Linked DNA regions of Homo sapiens. The protein of the gene in region 1 interacts with the protein of each later gene in a biochemical or structural test. Each region holds a gene or a part of one and is shown in the gene's direction. Other genes may lie near its edges.

What was found. Proteins that work in one complex are often made in the same cells at the same time.
Region 2: the proteins of DAPK1 (region 1) and KLHL20 are reported together in a solved structure, tested with the Homo sapiens proteins (2 studies listed by BioGRID and IntAct, with this or other methods).
Region 3: of the proteins of DAPK1 (region 1) and PPP2R5A, one has a biochemical effect on the other in vitro, tested with the Homo sapiens proteins (one study listed by BioGRID).

The regions. Positions count from the first base shown.
Region 1 is NC_000009.12:87,492,940-87,500,990, forward strand, and holds the start of DAPK1 (death-associated protein kinase 1), read left to right. Parts: upstream 1-4,927; 5' UTR 4,928-5,168; exon of another isoform or gene 5,169-5,433; intron 5,434-5,642; exon of another isoform or gene 5,643-5,697; intron 5,698-6,030; 5' UTR 6,031-6,138; coding exon 6,139-6,200; intron 6,201-8,051. UniProt on the Homo sapiens protein: Calcium/calmodulin-dependent serine/threonine kinase involved in multiple cellular signaling pathways that trigger cell survival, apoptosis, and autophagy.
Region 2 is NC_000001.11:173,752,942-173,760,123, forward strand, and holds part of KLHL20 (kelch-like protein 20), read left to right. Parts: intron 1-271; coding exon 272-366; intron 367-2,981; coding exon 2,982-3,097; intron 3,098-4,034; coding exon 4,035-4,218; intron 4,219-7,182. UniProt on the Homo sapiens protein: Substrate-specific adapter of a BCR (BTB-CUL3-RBX1) E3 ubiquitin-protein ligase complex involved in interferon response and anterograde Golgi to endosome transport.
Region 3 is NC_000001.11:212,280,751-212,288,552, forward strand, and holds the start of PPP2R5A (serine/threonine-protein phosphatase 2A 56 kDa regulatory subunit alpha isoform), read left to right. Parts: upstream 1-4,659; 5' UTR 4,660-5,360; coding exon 5,361-5,541; intron 5,542-7,802. UniProt on the Homo sapiens protein: The B regulatory subunit might modulate substrate selectivity and catalytic activity, and might also direct the localization of the catalytic enzyme to a particular subcellular compartment.

The DNA.
Region 1 (8,051 bases):
ATAAGGGATGGAGCAGGAACCCAAGGTAGTAATAGCAGAGCTGGCACCAACCCTAGGCTCAAAAAGACAAAGGAGAGAGAGTGGTTACCAAAACCCAGAAAGAGAAAACCCGGTAAAAGACGGGACCTGGTGAGGAGCAGCAACCTGTGTTTGGCTGTGGACTGTGGCAATCTTGCAGGGAGGAGAGCAGAGGAATGACTATCTTGGCTTCACTCTCCTTCCTTCTCCTTCATCTCATGTCAGGTGCCCCATTGGCTAAACCTACCAGCAACCAGAGGACAAGGAATGCATTAAAATAATCTTACGGCTCAGAGAGTAGATTAGATGTAGAGTGACAAATGGATTATATTTAGCACAATCGCAGGTCTATTTGTTGATCCGTCTCCCTCATCAGACTGAGTTACCTGAGGACAGAGAATGTTTCTCTTATATCTGTATCCCTAACATTTGGTGGACACTAGATACTCAAGAAATGCTTATGGACGGGATCAGAGAAGATGGTAAATTGGGCATTAGATGGAGGTTTGTGCTTTCTGAGCTTGCCGCATGCTTTCTGGCGAATCCAAGGCAAAATGAGAAACAGAATGAGCTCTGTACTTTTGTCTGGTAAAAGAAAATATGATTTGGTGAGAAGAAATGAATACTTTTAGCACTCAGTGCTGGGAGGAACTGGAATCAGTCATGTGACTGCCTCTATCAGAGGCTCTCAACTGCGTAACGGACAGAATCTTTAATGGTGAAACCACAATGCAGAAACATTCTTTTTTTTTTTTTTTTTTTTTTTTTTGAGACGGAGTCTTGCTCTGTCACCCAGGCTGGAGTGCAGTGGCACCATCTCGGCTCACTGCAAGCTCCGCCTCCCGGGTTCACCCCATTCTCCTGCCTCAGCCTCCCAAGTAGCTGGGACTACAGGCACCTGCCACCACACCTGGCTAATTTTTTGTATTTTTAGTAGAAATGGGGTTTCACCGTGTTAGCTAGGATGCTCTTGATCTCCTGACCTCGTGATCTGCCCGCCTCGGCCTCCCAAAGTGGGAAACATTCTTAAAAATATTAGCCCTTGATAAAACCAAAGCCATGTTACAAAAAAGCAACCAAAAGGTGGAAATGAGATAATATGGTCCACTTTGAGCTGAGAACATCTTGCCAGAAAATGATTGTCTCAGACTTCAAATCTGACCTCCTACATAAACCTTCAGTGCAATCCTCCCTGTATTATCTCTTCTCTCATCAGCCAAAAGATGGAAAGGATAAACTGAGGAACTTACGCTGGAGGAGCATGGATTCATTAGATGGCAGAAACCTGGGTTTCTGAATGACTACTGTGGAGCTGATCTCTGCTTATGCCCTGCAAACCTTTGTGCTGAGAGCAAGTAACACATTTTTAATGTGTTAAACCTCTGGGATTTGTTGGGTCTTATAGCAATGGTTATTTTACCCTAATACGACTGTAAAATAATGTTCTAAAATCTACAGTCGGGTTTGTTTAAAATATTATCGCCATCATTATTATAATCCATAGTCCATATCATAATTATTTTTATAGAAGTCCTTCTCAACTGGCATCTCATAATTTGTGGCTTCTTATATTGTTGCCTTCTATGTGTGAGATGCCTCTCTGAGTCCTTTTTGCTAGGGACATGATAGAAAATAAAATATCCAACATTCTGGTGTATTTTATAATGTACAAAGTCCTGTTTCATGCATTATCTCTTTAGATTCTCCCAACAAACCCAAGGAATATGTAAGGGTCTATAATCATCTTCATTTCACAGGTGATGAAACTGAGACGTTTACATGTAAAGTGGAAATAACCACTTATTTATTTATTTATTTATTAAATAAAAACCCCGCTAATTTATTTAAAGATTAATTGAGAGAATTATTTCATCTGTCTGGAACCTGGTATGTGTTAAGAGAAAAGTTTTCTTAATTTTTCTTTTTAAGAAGATAATCTATTGCTACATAACAAACCACTCTGAAATAATGACTTAAAACATTAAAAGTCATTGATTTTGCTCACAGAACTTGAACTGGAAGATATAAACAACTGGGAGTGAGGGTGGGGCTGGACAGCTGGCTTCTCTGGGCATCTCTCGTTCTTTCTGTGGTTTTGTCACATGTCTCTACATGGCAGCCCTAGGGTAATCATGACAGCTGAAGGCTTTAGAGTGGGTGGAGGGGGAGAGGGAGGGAGGGAAAGAGAGAGAGAGAGAGAGAGAGAGAAAGAGAAGCAAGCAGGCAGAAGCTCTAATGCCTTATGACCTAACCTTGGAAATAAATTACACTGTGCCACTGCCACTACCTTTTCTTAGAAGCAAGCAGATAGGGTTGGTGAATATTTATTGAGAGGGGAATTAGACTCCACCTCTTGATTGGGGGAGTGTCAAAGAATTTGTGAATATGTTTTTAAATGACCACATTTCCCCTTTCTAAAATGCTTGTCTAAATTGGTGTACACAAAAAGCTCGGGGGTTAGTGACTCATCCAAGGTTATTAAGCTGTTAAATGGTTCCACCAATACTAGATCTAATTTTGTGACTCCAAATTTCATGCTCTTTTTCACTACTCCAGATAATCTCCGGTGAACATCATTGTCCATTAGGGTAGTTAAGACATTCTAGCTGCCAAATAGATTCAGTCCTTTTAATTGCCTCGGACAATATATTTTTTATTTTGCAGAAAATAAATATTACCCATATGGCAGTCATCCATAAACACCTTCCAAGTTTATCCCAAACATCTGTGTTTTAAATTTTTTCTCCCAACAGATGTATTCATTTGCATTTTCCCAGATGAATCACTCTTTTTTTGTTGTTGTTGTTATTTTTGACTGTATTTCTCACCTCTCAAGACCCTTTTGTATTATCAAGCCCACTGCTTAAGCTAATACCATCTCCCAATTTGGGGACTTCCCCTTGATTCCTGTGTGCCCTTCCTGTGGGTCATTAATGCAATGTTATTTAAGACTAGGATTTGGCTGGGCGCAGTGGCTCACGCCTGTAATCCCAGCACTGTGGGAGGCCGAGCCGGGAGGATCACCTGAGGTCAGGAGTTCAAGACCAGCCTGACCAACATGGTGAAACCACGTCTCTACTAAAAATACAAAATTAGCCGGGCATAGTCACATGCCTGTAATCCCAGCTACTGGGTAGCCTGAGGCAGGAGAATCGCTTGAACCCGGGAGGCGGAGGCGGAGTTTGCAGTGAGCCAAGATTTCACAACTGCACTCCAGTCTGGGCCACAAGAGCGAAAACCCGTCTCAAAAAAAAAAAAAAGACTAGGATTTGACATAAGGCCTGAGGGGTATTCTTTTGTTTTGTTTTGCCTTGTTTTCAAGAGGCCAAAATCTTCACAGTTGAAAATTTCTGTTGAACCACAGAGATTTGAACCAACTCAGTTTAGAAAGCCTGGGGATTTGAACAACGGTATGGATCGGAAATCTCTTCATCTGTCAGTTTTCATCATTCTAGGCAGTAAAATAGATTTCCCTTTAGGAGCTTTTCACCGTTTGGGGTTCTCCAGCAGTGGGATGTGGGGAATCAACCCTTCTTCGTCTCCACCCAAACATTAGGTGGGAGCAAGGGGTGGGAAGTAGAGAAAGTGGATAGAGGTCTCCAGTGGATATGGGATCTTTGTGTAGACCAGCACAGTCCTCAGAAATCTCATGCAAGCAACATAGGTACTGTTATATTTTCTAGTGGCCACCTTTTAAAAAGTAAACAGGTGAGGCCGGGCGCGGTGGCTCACGCCTGTAATCCCAGCACTTTGGGAGGCCCAGGCGGGCGGATCACGAGGTCAAGAGATGGAGACCATCCTGGTCGACACGGTGAAACCCCGTCTCTACTAAAAATACAAAAATTAGCTGGGCATGGTGACGCGCGACTGTAGTCCTAGCTACTGGGGAGGCCGAGGCAGGAGAATCACTTGAACCCTGGAGGTGGAGGTTGCCACGCTCCACTACACTCCAGCCTGGCGACAGAGTGAGACTCCGTCTCAAAAAAAAGAAAGTAAACAGGTGAAATTAATTTTAATAATATATTTTGTTTAACCCAACGTATCCAAAATACTATCATTTGAAAGTGTAATGAATATAAAAATATTCATGAGATATTTTTCATTCTCATATCCATACTGTCTTGGACTCTAATGTGTATTTTACACTTACAGCACAATTAATTTGGGACTAGCTACATTTCAGCTCAACAATAGCCAATAGCATATGGGATAGCGCAAATAAACTCTGCGTCTCTGTTGCTTCTTTGGGTCTCGGAGACCTCAACCCTTTCTTCAGATTGCAAACCTTCTTGCCTTCAAGCCTCGGCTCCAACACCAGTCCGGCAGAGGAACCCAGTCTAATGAGGTACGCTCCCTTCCTGCCATTCTCTATTCCATTAACCTGTTTCGTGGTAAACGTAGGACTGATCCTCCAAAATTACCTTATTAATTAGCTTACATATTTATTATCTATCTGTCCCACCAGAATGCAGGTTTCCGGAAGGCAGGGATTTAAAAAAATCTGTTTTGTTCTATGTGATTTTCCCATACCAAGCACCGTGCCCGGCACAAGCTGGGATCCCAGTACACATCTCGGGACGGAAGAACCGTGTTTCCCTAGAACCCAGTCAGAGGGCAGCTTAGCAATGTGTCACAGGTGGGGCGCCCGCGTTCCGGGCGGACGCACTGGCTCCCCGGCCGGCGTGGGTGTGGGGCGAGTGGGTGTGTGCGGGGTGTGCGCGGTAGAGCGCGCCAGCGAGCCCGGAGCGCGGAGCTGGGAGGAGCAGCGAGCGCCGCGCAGAACCCGCAGCGCCGGCCTGGCAGGGCAGCTCGGAGGTGGGTGGGCCGCGCCGCCAGCCCGCTTGCAGGGTCCCCATTGGCCGCCTGCCGGCCGCCCTCCGCCCAAAAGGCGGCAAGGAGCCGAGAGGCTGCTTCGGAGTGTGAGGAGGACAGCCGGACCGAGCCAACGCCGGGGACTTTGTTCCCTCCGCGGAGGGGACTCGGCAACTCGCAGCGGCAGGGTCTGGGGCCGGCGCCTGGGAGGGATCTGCGCCCCCCACTCACTCCCTAGCTGTGTTCCCGCCGCCGCCCCGGCTAGTCTCCGGCGCTGGCGCCTATGGTCGGCCTCCGACAGCGCTCCGGAGGGACCGGGGGAGCTCCCAGGCGCCCGGGTGAGTAGCCAGGCGCGGCTCCCCGGTCCCCCCGACCCCCGGCGCCAGCTTTTGCTTTCCCAGCCAGGGCGCGGTGGGGTTTGTCCGGGCAGTGCCTCGAGCAACTGGGAAGGCCAAGGCGGAGGGAAACTTGGCTTCGGGGAGAAGTGCGATCGCAGCCGGGAGGCTTCCCCAGCCCCGCGGGCCGGGTGAGAACAGGTGGCGCCGGCCCGACCAGGCGCTTTGTGTCGGGGCGCGAGGATCTGGAGCGAACTGCTGCGCCTCGGTGGGCCGCTCCCTTCCCTCCCTTGCTCCCCCGGGCGGCCGCACGCCGGGTCGGCCGGGTAACGGAGAGGGAGTCGCCAGGAATGTGGCTCTGGGGACTGCCTCGCTCGGGGAAGGGGAGAGGGTGGCCACGGTGTTAGGAGAGGCGCGGGAGCCGAGAGGTGGCGCGGGGGTGCCACCGTTGCCGCAGGCTGGAGAGAGATTGCTCCCAGTGAGGCGCGTACCGTCTGGGCGAGGGCTTCATTCTTCCGCGGCGTCCCTGGAGGTGGGAAAGCTGGGTGGGCATGTGTGCAGAGAAAGGGGAGGCGGGGAGGCCAGTCACTTCCGGAGCCGGTTCTGATCCCAACAGACCGCCCAGCGTTTGGGGACGCCGACCTCGGGGTGCCGTGGTGCCCGGCCCCACGCGCGCGCGGGGCTGAGGGGTCGGGGGCGTCCCTGGCCGCCCAGCTTTAACAAAGGGTGCTCCTCTCCACCCCGCGAGGAGGGGCAGCTCCGGAGACCCGGTCTTCAGCGAGCGGGGTCTTAGCGCCGGGGAGGTCTACTTCCTTTTGGGGTTGCCATTTTACTATTATTATTGCCTTTTTTTTTTCTTCAAAAGGACTGGAGACTGATGCATGAGGGGGCTACGGAGGCGCAGGAGCGGTGGTGATGGTCTGGGAAGCGGAGCTGAAGTGCCCTGGGCTTTGGTGAGGCGTGACAGTTTATCATGACCGTGTTCAGGCAGGAAAACGTGGATGATTACTACGACACCGGCGAGGAACTTGGCAGGTAAAGGGGGTACCAGAAGCGTACCCTCCTGGATTGTGGAAATGCATAACGATGGGGCCATTGGGTGGTAAACAAATGCAGTTTGAATCAGGCGTCTCCCTCGCCCTTTCTGGAGATGCGCAAATCATAGAGAAAAGAGTTACTAACCCAGCGGTAAACCGCCTGATCCAAGGGCCTGGGGGTGGAGGAGAGGCAGCAGTTCAGGGCTAGATTATGATGCACAGTATATTGATCCAGTCCCCTGGACAAAATCAGATTTAATTGTCCGTGCTAACTCTTGTCAGCCCTTGCCCTTCTGTGACAACAGGACAAACACTAAGATTATAATTGCAATTGGAGTTAGCTTTTATGTGTGATTTAAACGGAGGGTACAAACTAATTAATAGGTTTTAAAAATCTTAGTACTTTACCCTCTATCTAAATTTTCAGTGTAATTTGAGCAAGTATTGGTAGGTGGTAAATGGAGACTTGCCAGATGTTGACATTGGGCTTGGATTTTGAAACTTCTTCCAACCAGGAATTTAATTACCTGGTTGGTGTTGGTGGTTGCTTTGGTTTCATTTACAATGTTAAATTTTTAACAAATCAATGAGAGTCTAATATGGCTATCTGGATTCAGAGCATACCTCCATTGCTGTAGCAGCTGTGATTCTCAGTGTAAAATCTTTCAGTTTCTAGGTAAACAAAGAATAGTTTCTTTCGGGGCATCTAAGGGCTGATTGCTGTTTCCTTTGACTGTGTATTAGACAGAGTGTTTTGGGCTCTGGTCAACTTTAGTAGAAAACCTAGTTTTCATACATACATTTAAAACTGAATTTATGGAATTTGACTGTGGTGTATTTACATTGTGAGTGGAGTAGGCAAAAGGATCTTTAAACAAACAAAATATGTATTTACTTATATGTGCATTGAAATATGTATTTTCCCATATACATCTGATGTCCTGATACAAAGCTTCCTTTTTCTCCATGAAAAGGAAATTAAAAAACACCCACATCCTGGATTGCCTAATGAGAATTATGGAAACTAAGCTTAACTAAATTTTTTTAAAAATTCAAATGATAGTGTAGAATTTTTTTAAAAGTTACTGTAACAGAGTATTTCTCTAAATATTTAGTATCGACTGAAAACATAGATGGGGGCCTGTGCTTAGGAAGAGCTCTCTGTATATTGATGATCTGGTGAGTAAATAAGGAAAGCTCTTCAAACATCACATTTCATGGATATGTTTAAGATTAAAGTTTAAGAGTGTGTGGGTGAAATATTTGGTTTAACTGGAATTAAATAACTTTACTGTGGTTTTCAGCAAGATGAGTGGTATTTGGAGTTTTCCTTTGGGACTGGAAGAAAAAAGCAAAAAAATAAATTTTAATTTGATTTGCATAGTGTGGCCTGATCGTTTAAGTGTTGTTAGAAAGAGAGATGACTAAAATTAGTTGAGATTATTATATTATGGATTAAGTATATTGACCTTATTTTCATTATGATTTTTTGGTACCATTATGTGTTATGAGAAAGAAATAGAAAAAGAGGCCTCCCTGTGGTTGGCGAAGGGAGTTTTTGATCTTTATTTCGTGGGCGTGATGATGAGGGGAGGGAGGTGGCTTACTTATTTGTCACTAGCACTTTGATTTGCTCAGTGTACATTTTTGTGTATAACGTTCTCCCCACTGTGCAAGGCAAATTGACAAATTGTTTATTAAATAATTTGTGTGACCTAGGAATTTTAAAGAAATGCTCTGAAAAACTGGAAGTCTGAAGTTTTTAAAAATGAAATGTACAGACTCATCTATCTTGTATAACTGCTATTGTTTTTGCCAAAAAATGAGTGAATGATTGTTTTTTGGAAAA
Region 2 (7,182 bases), on another chromosome or scaffold:
CAGATCACTTGAGCTCAGGTGTTTGAGACCAGCCTGGGCAGCGTGGTGATTCCCCGTTTCTACAAAAAAAAAAATACAAAAATTTGTTGGGCATGGTGGCATGCACTTGTAGTTGCAGCTACTCTGGAGGCTGAGGTAGGCACATCACTTGAGCCCAGGAGATTGAGGCTGCAGTGACCTACGATCATGCCACTGTACTCCAGCCTAGGCAACAGAGTAAGACCTATCTCAAAATTAATTAATTAAAATAATGGTGTTTATTTTCTCATAGGTGCTGCAGCATGTTCGTTTGCCTTTGCTTAGTCCCAAGTTCCTGGTCGGCACAGTAGGCTCTGATCCCCTCATCAAAAGTGATGAAGAATGCAGGTATGAGTGACCCTGGATGGGAAAAATCAACAACTAAGCATTCCTATTTTTTCCTAATTTCCTTATTTGTATTGCTTCCTAAATATTGTATTTTGCAGAGCTGAAACCAGGGCTTTAATTTAACAAGGTTTTCTTCTGGGCTAGAGTCAAGAGGAGGAAAAGAAGAAGAGAGAACTGAACTTCCAGTGTTTCATTCCATTAGGTTTTTATGTGTGGTGCTTACTGGTGTAGAAGTGGCAATAAAAAGGTAGATTTCCAAGATTTTAATGCAGGCTTGAATTTAAAGAGTCAATTCTCTGCTAATATTTTTTTTTTCCTTGAGATAATTAAATAATGCTGTTGACTCTGTCAATGAACATTTTTTCCTTCCATCACATATGTCTGGTTGGGGAATAGAATCAGCCTTGCTTTCTAAATTGTGGACAGAGTTGAAGATCTGCCACTTTCTAAAACAGCTGTAGAAAGATTTTCACTAAAACTAGGTGAAGCAGTTTCCAGAGGTTTTTTGACGAAAGAAACTCTTAACTACTTTTTCAAAGGGGGGGAAAAAAGCAACCTATTTTACTAGGCTGTCTTTAAAGTATATACAAAATGTAATAAATTACATTCCCAATTTGACAGATTGTAAGATTTAGGTTCAAATCTGAAATCATCTGGGATTGTTAACCATTTTTCCCCAGCATGTCCCAAATATAAAAGTGAAAGAGAAAATCCATACTCAGAACTTTGTAAACTACACTGACCTTTGAACCTCCCTTGGTGATTAAAGACATTTAGAATGATCCCTGATTCTAGAATGGTGGTAGGACATGTAGATTCACTTGCATTTCTTCTATAAACTAAAGCCTGTTCTTTTAACAGGAGAGGCTGGAGGGGATTTTAGATGTTTCTATTTTATTTTATTGTATCTTTTTTATATTAATCATTCTTCATTTTTCAGTTTACCATAGACTAGAGTTAAACTAGATTTTTGTATTCTATATTTAAAACACAGACAGGCCGGGCGCAGTGGCTCACGCCTGTAATCCCAGCACTTTGGGAGGCCGAGGTGGGTGTATCACCTGAGGTCAGGAGTTCGAGACCAGCCTCAACATGGAGAAACTGCATCTGTACTAAAAATACAAAAATTAGCTGGACATGGTGGTGCATGCCTGTAATCCCAGCTATTCAGGAGGCTGAGGCAGGAGAATTGCTTGAACCTGGGAGGTGGAGGTTGCGGTGAGCCAAGATCACACCATTGCTCTCCAGCCTGGGCAACAAAAGTGAAACTCAGTCTCAAAAAAAAAAAAAAAAAACACACAGACAAATGGCAATTAATTCTCCTAAATATTTGCAGTAGCAAAAAGGAAAACCATGTACATTATACATGCTGAAATCTGAAGAAATAATACATAGATGCCCTCCTCCATTAAAAGTAAATCAGATTGTATTGTACTGATTCTGATGCAGAAAGTAAAAGTACTTATGAAGTCATATTTAAAAGAAGACCCTTCCTGATATCCTAACTTCTTTTTGCTGCAGTTTCTTCCTCTATAAAGTGAGGATGATAATAGTGCCTATTCCATAAGGCTGTTGTGAAGATTAAATGAGTTTATATCTATTAAGCACTTAAAACCAGGACTAGCACATAGCTGTAAGTGTTGTTACTACCATTAATTTTGTGTTGGTTTGCTCAATATTATAGCTCTATAGTATTATTTGTAGGAACCCTCAAATGACCTAACAAGCTATTAGGAGATCAAAGTCTTTGTCTTTTTTTTTTTTTTTTTTGAGACGGAGTCTCGCTCTGTTGCCAGGCTGGAGTGCAGTGGTGCAATCTCGACTCACTGCAACCTCTGCCTCCCAAGTTCAACCGATTCTCCTGCTTCAGCCTCCTGAGTAGCTGGGACTACAGGCGCGTACCACCACACCCAGCTACTTTTTGTATTTTTAGTAGAGACGGGGTTTCACCATATTGGCCAGGATGGTCTCAATCTCTTGACCTCATGATCCACCGCCCCTCAGCCTCCCAAAGTGCTGGGATTACAGGCGTGAGCCACTGCAAAGTCATTACATGTGTAATTACTAGACTCTTCTCTTAAAGTGTCTTAACAAGACAGGAAATATGTCTCGGTAGACTTGTTGAGAGTAAACCATTCATATGTTACCAGATAGCAAATTTGTGGCAGTACAGTGTTTCTTTTCAGCAATCCGATTTTTGACCCAGTTTTATTACTTTAATCTAGCAAATAACTATTGCCCTGGCTGATGTGCTACCTTGCTAATATCTTGCAGAATCTAATAAAATTTATTAAAAAGTAGTAACTCTGCAGTGTGGTAATCAAATTGTAATTTTTACTTTTCTATAAGTTATTGTTGGCTGTAAGCATGTTGAGCTTTAGGCTAAATTTGCAGTGAGACATGAGTCATGATGGAAATACCAATCAATTCACAACTCAGTTTGACTGGCATTATTGGTTTCATGTTTGTGCCAATTTTAATATTGGCTGGCATTCATGATTTGGTTTGATTTATGCTTGCTTCCCTTTGCCAACCTATATATTCCTAAACTACATTGGGACTTAACTAACAATGTAATTTAGATATTTGGAATAAAGGCAGAATTTTTTCTACAGAGACTTGGTAGATGAGGCTAAAAACTACCTCCTATTGCCGCAAGAACGACCACTAATGCAAGGACCAAGGACGAGACCACGGAAACCTATCCGATGTGGGGAAGTACTCTTTGCAGGTTTGGATCTTAATATACTGTTAGTAAATTGAGTATTTTCCCAGGTGAGAAACTGTCATTTGAAAAATCCTTTGGACAATTATGATATTTACTGTCATAAGACACAAATAATAAGTCAGCATATAGCTTGACTCATAACCCATGATTCCACACTGATATACTCCAAAAGAGTGCTCTATTCTTTTTTCTCATTCAACACCTTTAATATCTATTTTTATATAAATCCAAAAATGTTGGCTGGTCACAGTGGCTCATGCCTATACAGCTTTCTGGAGGCCAGGCGTTTGAGACCAGCCTGGGCAATATAGGGAGGCCCCATCTTTACAAAAAATAAGAAAAACAATTGGCTGAGTGTGGTAGTGCATGTCTGTAGTCCCAGCTACTTGGGAGGCTGAGACAGGAGGATGGCTTGAGCCTAGGAGGTCAAGGCTGCAGTGAGCTGTGATTGCACCACTGTACTCCAGCCTGGGGAACAGAACAAGATCCTGTCTCAAAAAATAAAAAATAAAAATGTCGTGCAGTAGATGTTTTGTTGAAATGAGTCACATGCATTAATTTATATATCAATGTGCAGCTCATCCCATAATCACATGGAATTGTGAAAAAACATTAAACAATTATAATTTATTTCTCCATTCTATGCATATCCATCTATAATTTCTCCATTCTATCCATATATACATATTATCTCATAATCCTATGTGAATTGGTATCATTGCCTTCCTTTGTAAAATAGACGTAATACTAACTTATTTACAGAATTGATTAAAGATTATAGCAATCCCAGTGGAATGAGTTGAAGTCATAACTTGCATTTTGACCTACTACTAGAGACATTTGGTGAGTCTAAGCATTAGGTCACAGTGAAGTTAGTAGTGAGTGTTACATTTTATGCTTCAGGATAGGATTCTCTTGACCATTTCTGTTACTTCCCCAGTTGGTGGTTGGTGCAGTGGAGATGCCATTTCCAGTGTTGAACGATATGATCCACAGACCAATGAATGGAGAATGGTGGCTTCAATGAGCAAAAGGAGATGCGGAGTTGGGGTCAGTGTTCTTGATGATCTGTTATATGCAGTAGGAGGCCATGATGGATCCTCTTATCTCAATAGTGTTGAAAGGTGAGTAAGGTCAATCTGTAATTTTCTCTCTACTATTCATATAGTTTTATTTGAGATGTTAATTAGGAAACAAATTGATTTAATGCTTTAGTATTGCATCTGTGGCACTAGTTGGCAACCTAAACAAGTTAGTATGATACACAAATTCTTTATGATCTGGTCTCCGCCTATTTTTCTAGTCTGTCTCCCATGACACACTACCACTCCCTAAGCATGCTACTACAGACACATCAAATTGCCTGCAGTTCCTTGGACATGCTGCATGTCCATTCCAAGTCATACCTCTCTCCTTACATATATGCATGCTGTTCTTTTTTCCCTGGGATACTTCTGCCACTTTAAGACTTACATTTCCTTTGGCCAGGTGCAGTGGCTCATGCCTGTAATCCCAGCTACTCGGGAGGCTGAGGCAGGAGAATGGCCAGAACCTGGGAGGCAGAGCTTGCAGTGAGCCGAGATCACGCCACTGCACTCCAGCCTAGGCAAAAGAGCGAGACTCCTTCTCAAAAAAAAAAAAAAAAGAAAAAAAAGACTTACATTTTCTTCAAGACACAAATGTTACTTAATACATACAACTTTCTATGATACCATACAGATGAGTTAGTTACTAGTTACTTGTTCCTTTGCCCTTCCATAAGTATTTTGAACATGTTTGTACATATCCATCACATTGTACTATACGTGTTGAAATGTGTTTCACCATAATATCTATCGCAGTGACTGGGCACATTGGGAATCTCTAGTAACTGATGTTTCAATAGCTTCTTGCTCTCAAGAAGCTGTGTTGATTAACAGTGACTCTTTGTTTCCATAACACATCTATGAAACGCTGCCGCATATCAAGTTCTAAAGATATAGATTGTGCAGCTGGGGAAAAATCTTAAAAAGCAGAGGGATCAGTCCCATAGAAGTAAAACAACTGCAACATGGAGAAACCTCATCTCTACAAAAAATACAAAAATTTACTAGTTGTAGTGGTGCACGCCTGTGAGTCCCAGCTACTCAGGAGACTGAGGCAGGAGGCCCGCTTGAGCCTGGGAGGTAAAGGTTGCCATGAGATGAGATTGCGCCATTGCACTCTAGTCTGGGTGACAGAGCAAGACTCTCTCAAAAAAAAAAAGAAAAAGAAAACAACACACACACTTAAAAATAAATTGATGACATCACAGAAGGGAAAAAATAAATTGATGGCATCACAGAAGGGATCATGGCAGACGGGAGGCAGGACTAGACTGAAGCTCCAGACCGGGCAACATGCGGAGGCTTGATTGCAAATGTTAGCTCCAGACTGACTGCAAGAAAAAATCAGCAATCTCAAGAGGACCCACAGACCCTCTGAAGAAAGCGGACTGCTCCTGCAGCACCCGGGAGAAACCCCAAATATTGGGAGTGCCCCAACTGCAGAAATGGGAAAGGGAGACCCTCCTCTCCCAAACACACACCCCCACTGGAGAAGCTGAAGGTCTGTTTGCAGGAGAAGTTTCCAACTTTACCTGGAGCTGAGTCAAGTTAGAGAGGCAAGCGAAATAACAGGGGTAGAGGAAGCAGCAGAAAGGCCCTGGGAGTTTGCTGGGTCCCCAAGCAGGCCATTCCTGCCTGGCACCACAGGGATCCATTGGGAGGGTGGCCAGAGGAGCAGGGGATAAAACTCCCCAGGGAGAAGGAATTCTCTAGCTGAACTTTGTAACAATTTGAACAGGGTGAGAAGCCTCCTGACCAGAACTCAAGGTAGGGTGCAAATCCTGCATGCAGACTTCACCGGCAGGGGGAAAACTAAAGCCCTTTTCTCTTGCAGCTGGGAGGCGGATAGCCTGGGGCAAGCCTGCTGCCCGCCTGTGGCCTGGAAACAGACTCAGAGTTGTGAGAGGGGCACGGTGGGAGTGAGACCATGGGAGTGAGACCAGCCCTTCAGTTTGTGTGGGAGCTGAGTGAGGCCTGTGACTGCCGGCTTTCCCCCACTTTACTGACAACCTGCATGACTCAGCAGAGGCAGTCATAATCTTCCTAGGTACACAACTCAAGTGACCTAGGAATCTCTTCCCCCATCCCCAACAGCAGTCGCAACAAGACCCGCCCAAGGAGAGTCTGAGCTCAGACATGCCTAATCCTGCCCCCACCTGATGGTCCTTCCCTGTCCACCCTGGTAGTGGAAGACAAAGGGCATATAATCTTGGGAGTTCTAGGACCCCACCTACCACCAGTCTCTCTCCACACTACTACAGCTGATGTTTTCTGGAAAGCACCACCTCCTGGCAGGAGGCCAACCAACACAAAAATAGGGTATTAAACCACCAAAACTAAGGATCCTCACGGAGTCCATTGCACCCTCCACCAGAACAGGTGCTGGTATCCACAGCTGAGAGACCCATAGATGGTTCACATCACAGGACTCTGTGCAGACATCCCCTACTACCAGCCCAGAGCTGAGTAGACTTGCTGGGTGGCTAGACCCAGAAGAGAGACAGCAATCACTGCAATTTGGTTCACAGGAAGCCACATCCATAGGAAAAGAGAGAGAATACTACATCAAGGGAACACTTCGTGGAACAAAAGAATCTGAACGATAGCCTTCATCCCTAGACCTTCCCTCTGACAGAGCCTACCCCAATGAGAAGGAACCAGAAAACCAACCCTGGTAACATGATAAAACAAGGCTCTTCAACACCCCCAAAAAATCATACTAATTCACCAGCAATGGATCCAAACCAAGAAGATTCCCTGATTTACCTGAAAAAGAATTCAGGAGGTTAGTTATTAAGCTAATCAGGGAGGGACCAGAGAAAGGCAAAGCCCAAGGCAAGGAAATCCAAAAATGATACAAGAAGTGAAGGGAGAAACACTCAAGAAAATAGATAGCTTAATGAAAAAACAAAAATTCAGGAAACTTTGGACACACTTTTAGAAATGCAAAATGCTCTAGAAAGTCTCAGTAATAGATATGAACAAGTAGAAGAAAGAAATTCA
Region 3 (7,802 bases), on another chromosome or scaffold:
TGAACATTTTAACAATATTAATTTCCTTGCTGGAATAGCAGTTAGGATTTGGTGCTCTCTCCTGCAGCTTCTTGAAGTGTGACTTTGCTAAGCCTTAAGCAATTAAACACATTATATCTCTGGAAACATATATAAGAAACTGATAGCAGTGGTTGTCCCCAAAGCGGGGAACCAGATGTTGGGAAGCAGGGGTGGGAGTGAGACGTTTCCTGTTGCCCTTTTACTCCTTCTGAATTTTAAATAATGAGAATGTATTTAAATAAATAGAAATGAGGCACTAAAAATTAGTGTATTTTTATAAGTCAGATACTATCTTGATTTAGATTCTAGTAAAGTGGTAGTAAGATGCAAACATTTTTAAAAGATATGAGATATTTTTTATTTTTATTTTTTGAGATAAAGTGTCACTCTTTCTCCCAGGCTAGAGTGCAGTGGCACCATCAGTGCTCACTGCAGCCTCGACTTCCTGGCATCAGGTGATTCTCCCACCTGAGCCTCCTGAGTCACTGGGACTACAAGTGCACACCCCCACCGCCACCTAATTTTCTGTATTTTTAGTAGAGATGGGGTTTTGCCACATTGCCCAGGCTGGTCTTGAATTCCTGGGCTCAAGTGATCCTCCGGCCTTGGCCTCCCAAAGTGCTGGGATTACAGGCATGAGCCACTGTGCCTGATCATGAGAGAAGTTTTGTGTAAATTTGGAAAATACTACCACTCTTTGATTCTGTAGATCCGGCACCTTGGTCTGGTGTTCTATTGGAGCAGTTTGGGAATCATGACTCTTAAGGAAAGAGAATGTTGACAGTCAAAACTTTGCTTGGATATGCTTTAGAGAATTTCACAGTGATTTGAAAAGAACACTCTCTGTGATGTGCTCTTTAAAACCATTACACAACCATTATTTTGATGTTGTGGATATTACTTTTTCTCGCATCATTTTTCTCAACAAAAGGATAAGGTCAGTAAGTGTATATACGTTTATAAACTAAGGAAGTTAAGTAATGTAAGCACAAACCATCCAAGGAATTTGTTAGTGATGCAATCCTGGCCTCTAAATTGCTCTTGACCAAGGAGCTTCACATATGGGAAGGATCAGAAATTCTATGGCATGGAATCAAAGACACTCTTCCTGCTTCAGGGGCACATATAGATTAGTACTGTCATTGCAGTTTCCTATTAGATGATTCTTAGTGACCAAATCTCTGTCTAGGACCCAGATACCTTATTTACTCAAAATAGTGGACGGAAAATAAACGTTTGATATACATGTATGCATAATATTTTCATCTACATAATTTTTATTTCCCTGAGTGTTTTTTCTTGGGTCATATTTAAAACTCATGCCAGCCCTGTGAAGAAGGTTGTCATTTTTTTTTTCTGATGTACACATGTGGAAAAAGTGACTGGACAGAATCATTCTATTGATAAGTAGCACAGAGTCAGGCATTTTGATTCTTGGGCTTTTGTTCTTCCCCCTGGAAAATGCTTAGTGACTTGATCTGGAATGCCATCCTCTCTTTTCAGGTTTTGACTTGATCTTTAAAATTATGCTCAAAATTCTTCCCCAAGAGGCTGTTTCACCAAAGCCCAGATGGTTTTTGCTGGTTCCAAGACTCCCAAAAACTTGTTTCCAGTATTTTCTATTATATCCAGTATCTATTATTTATCACATTCCAGTATGAACATGGAATATGATTTATTGTATTGACTTACAGAATTTGCTTTATTGTATTTATTTTTTTCTTTTCTTTTTTTTTTTTTCTTTTTTGAAACGGAGTCTCACTCTGTCACCCAGGCTGGAGTGCAGTGGCGCAATCTTGGCTCACTGCAACCTCCGCCTCCCGGGTTCAAGCGATTCTTCTGCCTCAGCCTCCTGAGTAGCTGGGACTACAGGCTCGTACCACCACACCTGGCTAATTTTTTATTTTTAGTAGAGACAGGGTTTCACCATGTTGGCCAGGCTGGTCTCAAACTCCTGACCTCGTGATCACCCACCTCGGCCTCCCAAAGTGCTGGGATTACAGACGTGAGCCACTGCGCCCGGCCTGTACTGATTTTCTTTCTGCTATTTGTCTCCCTTTCTTATTTTATGTAAATTATTATAAATAGTACTACTCCTGACTTACAGACATTTACATTCTGTTTTTAATAACTTCTAGATGACTAGAGAATAGTAGTTCCAAACTTTTGTGTACATAAGAATAACCTAGGGAAGTTATTAAAAATAGACTTCTCAGTGCTCTTCCCATAGGTTCTAGTTCTGTTGGGGGGAGGCGGGGGAGGTCCAGGAATCTGCATTTTCAATAAGCACCCCAGAGGATGCTGATGCAGGTGATCCAGTAACCACGCTTTCAGAAATTCTGCTGTTGAGAACTAAAAATGTGATTGTTATCCTCTGCTCAGTAGGGGAAACAGAGGTGTAAAATAAAATAACTGAGTTCTTGCTCTCTTGGTGTTGACAAACTTTCAGCTGTGAGTGGTGTGGACACTAAATGCAATAGGAATACAAAGAAGGGAGGCATCACTTCTGGCTGGATTGTCAAGCTTCATAAAAGATAGGGGGTTTGAAGAAAAGAAATTTCAAAAAGATGAAAAAAAAATGGGCCGGGCGCGGTGGCTCACGCCTGTAATCCCAGCGCTTTGGGAGGCGGAGGTGGCCGAATCACGAGGTCAGGAGTTCGAGACAAGCCTGGGCAACATGGTGAAACCCCGTCGCTACTAAAAATACAAAAAATTAGCCGGGCGTGGTGGCAGGTGCCTGTAATCCCAGCTACTCGGGAGGCTGAGGCAGGAGAATCGCTTGAACCCGGGAGGCGGAGCATGCAGTGAGCCGAGATTGTGCCACCATTGCACTCCAGCCTGGGTGACAGAGCAAGACTCCGTCTCAAAAAAGAAAAAAAAAAGTGGATTATTTCAAGATGTTGGAACAGCAAAGACTAAGTGTTGAGGATGCATAACTTCTTTTAGGGGATCAGTATGTGGAATGATGTGCCTGAACTAAAAAGAGTTTTTGTGGGCACATGTAGGAATTTACACTTGGAAAGACAGGAGTCAGATCGCAGAGAGTCTTGAATTTGGACTCTATTCTGCAGGTATTGGGTGGTTCCTCAAACACGCAGGTAAGATAAAAGTGATCTTAAAAGATTGATGTGGCAGTGAGTTTGAAAGCCGTGAACTACGTTTGGCGGTCTTTGTACACATTGGGAGAAACGCCAATTGTGAAAGTAGATTTAACATGATCTGGAGCTTGACTATGTGAGAAAGCGAAAAGTGTCAGAAACGCTGCTGAGGTTTGAACCTCCTTGACTGGGAGGATTATGTACAATTTCACCGCCCAGCAAATCTGAAGGAGGAAATGTTTTGAGGATAGTATGTTTGGTTCTAGGTCTAGAATTCAACTTCCTGCCAAATTTGGAATCTTCTGTACATATGCATCAGGTGGCTTCGTTTAAATATACGACAATTACTTTTATTATGTTGAAAGGAAAAGGTCTGGAGCTCGAGGGAGGGGATTACAGATTTGGGTCCATTGGCGCAAAGGGAGGCTGACTGTTCAGATTAATAATTATTAACGGCCACCGTATGGAAAGCACTGCACGAAAAACTAAGATGACCAGTCCTCGTCCTTAAGAAATTCAAAATCTAGACGGAATCTCCAAGAAAGAGATTCCGGTAAGAGTACATGGCAAGCCTCCATATCCACACACCACTGACCAATGAATTTGTACTCTTCTCGTTGGAGTAGTTGAGGGCCTTTGGCTCAAGGAGGGGTGAAAATTAGCAGGATACTAAATTGGGAATGAGAAATCTCTTTTTAGAGGGCGTGGACTTGCAGAACTCTTTGAAGCAGCAGATGCTAGACTGCCCAAACCCCACGCGAGAGTAGCTCTCTGGAGTTGCGGAGTCCGAACCTCCCAAGAGCTACAAATTTATTCCGCAACTACCAATTTTGCGGTTTGGGGCCAGTAAGGCGCCAAGACCCGCCCAGGTGTCCAGACCTCGCAACGATTGGACGAGCTCACCTTCTCGCCTTCCCCGGGCCCCTCGCCCGTCAATCACACTGCTTGCTCGCCACCTGACCTCTGCTGCGCCCCCTTTCAGTGGTGTAACACCTGGCGCTCTTTCGCGCCCCAGCCCTCCGGCGCCCCACCAATCGCTTCAGTTCTTCATTGGCCAGCAGAGAGGTGAGGGAAGGGAAGGGGCGCTCTATTTTGCTCTCTGAACGCACCCTCTCAAGTTTCCCAGTCTTCTCGTAGACGGTCAGGAGAGCAATGACAGCCTGGAGCAGTCGCGCGTGAGCGCAAAAATGCCCGCTGGTGGAGGAGCGCTTCCCCTCCCTCCCAAGCGATTTGCCGCATTTGTTCTGACGCAGGGGCACCCCGCTCGCCGTCTTCACTTACGATTGGCTGTGGCCGAAGCCCGTCACACAGCCCGCCCCACTCCTCTGCCTCAAGAGGCCGCACCTCACGCCGTCGCTGCCGCTTAGCCGTGTGATTGGCTAAGAGGGCTGGCATGCTTTCCCGCCCCCTCCCCCGCCGCCGCACCAAGAGGCGGGCGGGACCCCGCGGAAGTTGTCAGTCAAACTCCTCCTTCCCACCCCTTGCGAGGCCCCTCCCCGGGCCGCGCGCCCTGGCGCGCGCACACGCGCACACACTCCCCAGTCGCCTGTACCAACCACCTTCTCAAGTTGTAGCGGTCGCTCGCCTGGGGTTCTCCGTGGGCGGCCGACGGGCGCGTGGGGGAGGGGGTTCGGGCCGCCCAGCGCGGCAAGGAGCGAGTGTGTGCACGCAGAGGGCCGGGGCTACGGGGCAGCGCCCCGGGCGATGAGGGGCCGGCGTTGACCGGGAAGAGCGGGCACCGCGGCAGTGGCTCCGAGGGGACCCGCGATGGCAGCGCCCTGAGAGGAGGCTCCAGGCAGGGCGGGCTGCGCTGGCAGCGGCCGCTGAGGTGCTGGCCGGCCGGCTGGCTGGCGACGGGGGCAGAAGCGACGAGAGGCGCGCTCGGCACCCGCACCCCCGTGCCCCCGCCTCAGTTGTCTAAACTTCGGGCTCTCTTCCACCCGCTCTGCGCGCCCAGAGTCAACAACTTCTTCACCCCCCTCCGCCCCCGCCCTTCCCTCCGTCAGCCCCGGGAGCTCGCCGCGCGCCGGGGACCAGGAACCTCCAGCGCTGAGATGTGGCCGTGAGGCGTTGGCGGGCGGCGAGGAGAAGCTCGGCGGCGTCCCGGGGCCGGAGGGCCGTGGGGCCGGGGCGCAGGGGCGCGAGCACCCCGCGCCTCTCCCCCGCCTCCTCCTGCCGTCTCCGCCGCTGCCCGTGCCTTGCAAGCAGCAGCCGGAGCTGCCAAGCGTCAGGGCCGCGGAGATGTCGTCGTCGTCGCCGCCGGCGGGGGCTGCCAGCGCCGCCATCTCGGCCTCGGAGAAAGTGGACGGCTTCACCCGGAAATCGGTCCGCAAGGCGCAGAGGCAGAAGCGCTCCCAGGGCTCGTCGCAGTTTCGCAGCCAGGGCAGCCAGGCAGAGCTGCACCCGCTGCCCCAGCTCAAAGGTAACCTCCGAGGGCGCAGCCCCAGCAGCGAGCGCAGGGGCTGGCAACGCTTGCCTCTGCGCCAGCAGAGCCATTTCCTGCTGGGTTTCTCCTGCTCAGTTGGGACTGGTAGTGTGTGAGCCGAGTTCCCCACAATGCCTTGGCGTCACCTCACGCCCTCCTCCTTATTCAAACAGGTTTTCTGTGAAGTCTTGGCTGTTTCCTTCTAATTCCCACCTGAACTCTTTCCATCCTAGGGGAGGCCAACACCCTTCCCCACCTGCGCGCTTGCTTAACCTGCACTTCCTATCTTGCGTCCCGTGAAGTAGAGTCCTTCACTCCTCTTCCAGGTTTGCCCTTTCCCGGTCTTGCTTTAACAACCGCACGAACCTTCCCCGACCTTCACTTTCCCGAGTGTCAGCTCCTCTGTTCGGCCACTTTTAGCTAGTCCTTTACTTTTACAGTTATAAAGCCGTCTGCACCCACCTTCTTCTCAACTTCACTTCCCATTGATTGCCCCTAAGAGTCATCAGACCAGGAATCCGAATGCAAACAACGGTTAAGAGTTAGCTGGCCTTTGGATGTATTTATAAAGAAAAAGCCTAAAATTTGACCAGTGTAGTATCTTATTCACAGGATCGTTAGCTTTAAATGGTATCCTTTAGCTCAAGGAATAGATTTAAAATATTCTGTTGTCTGAGCCGATACACATGGTCTATTTGGAAATACGAAGGAGTAGGTAGTGTTGCTTTGCAGTCGAATGGGAACTTAGTTTGCCAGGCAGTGATTCCAGGGACTTTGTAGGTTTGTACAGGAATTCAAATTGGTATCCGTGCCTAATGCCTTGCAGGAGAACTTGGCACTCTTTTTGGCTCACTTTTCCCACTAGGTTTAGAGGATTTTCGATGTTATTTCCTGGTGTTCTAGTTTATTCTTTGTGTATTACTCATGCTTAATTTTATAATTTTAATGTCCTTGCTTTTTATGAGATAGAAATGTTGGAACAAGATGATAATGCTCCTACATATTTAGATAAAATTTGCAACCTGACGGAAATCCCTATCATCTGATGTTCAGATTTTTCAATTCATTTGAAAAAGCTGCAGCATCCCCTTCAAGGCCAGTCTGGTTCTCATTTGTCTTTGGGCCTGTGAATCCAGCCTTAGTTTGGCAAGGAGTCTAAAGAAAACCCCAGATCAAATCACAGTTGACCTACAACAGCTCCAGAACCCTATTGAGACCCTACCTTGCCCTGACTCTTGGAGTGCTTCTAAATCATGACATCTCACAGTTAGAATCAAACTGGCTTTTGAACAGAGATTTTGAGATATTAGTCTGTGCTATCGAATTTATCATTTGATTGCTCTTTAGCATATAAAAATTGTTAAAATTTACATAGCAAAATGGTAGACTATAATGATAGGCATTGCCAAGACTTTAATTCTTGAATGATGTCATAGCTATAAAAGAATATCGTCTTTGCTATTCATAGATTTTAAAATTTACACTTATTTAAAATATCATAGTTTTTTTATACTACTGATTTTTTTTCTCCCATTAAATTGTCAAACTGTAGTTTGAAGGTTTGGTGCTAGGGTTATTTCATAGTTATTTAATTTGCTTTTTAGTAAGATATTCTAGTTTCTTAGTATTGTACTTCTTAATAGTATACTTTAATAAAAGTAATTGAATATTAAACATTTGGTTGGTTTCAAGCCAGGAGATGCAGCTTTGATAGGTTTTGCTTTTATTTTATTTATTTTATTTTATTTTTTCACTTTCGTTGCTCAGGCTGGAGTGCAATGGCGCGATCTCAGCTCACTGCAACCTCCGCCTCCCGGGTTCAAACAATTCTTCTGCCTCAGCCTCCCAACTAGCTGGGATTACAGGCATGTGTCACCATGGCCGGCTAATTTCGTATTCTTAGTAGAGATGGGGTTTCACCATGTTGGTGAGGCTGGTCTCCAACTCCTGACCTCAGGTGATCAGGCCACCTCAGCCTCCCAAAGTGGTGGGATTACAGGCGTGAGCCACCGCACCTGGCCACATTTTGCTTTTAAAAGCTTGGAAAAATATGCATAGAGTCAGTAATCATCTAAGTTATATGATGTAGGGTTCAACAAGTTGAAGGTGCCATATAGTATTTGGTCACTAGTAAAGAAGAAAGTAAATTGGAACTTTACATTAATTGTAGATATTTGCATGAAAATACAGTATTCATCATAAGGAAAATTATGTATTCAGGATAAATTTATGCAAATTTAATTGAGGAAATAAGACCC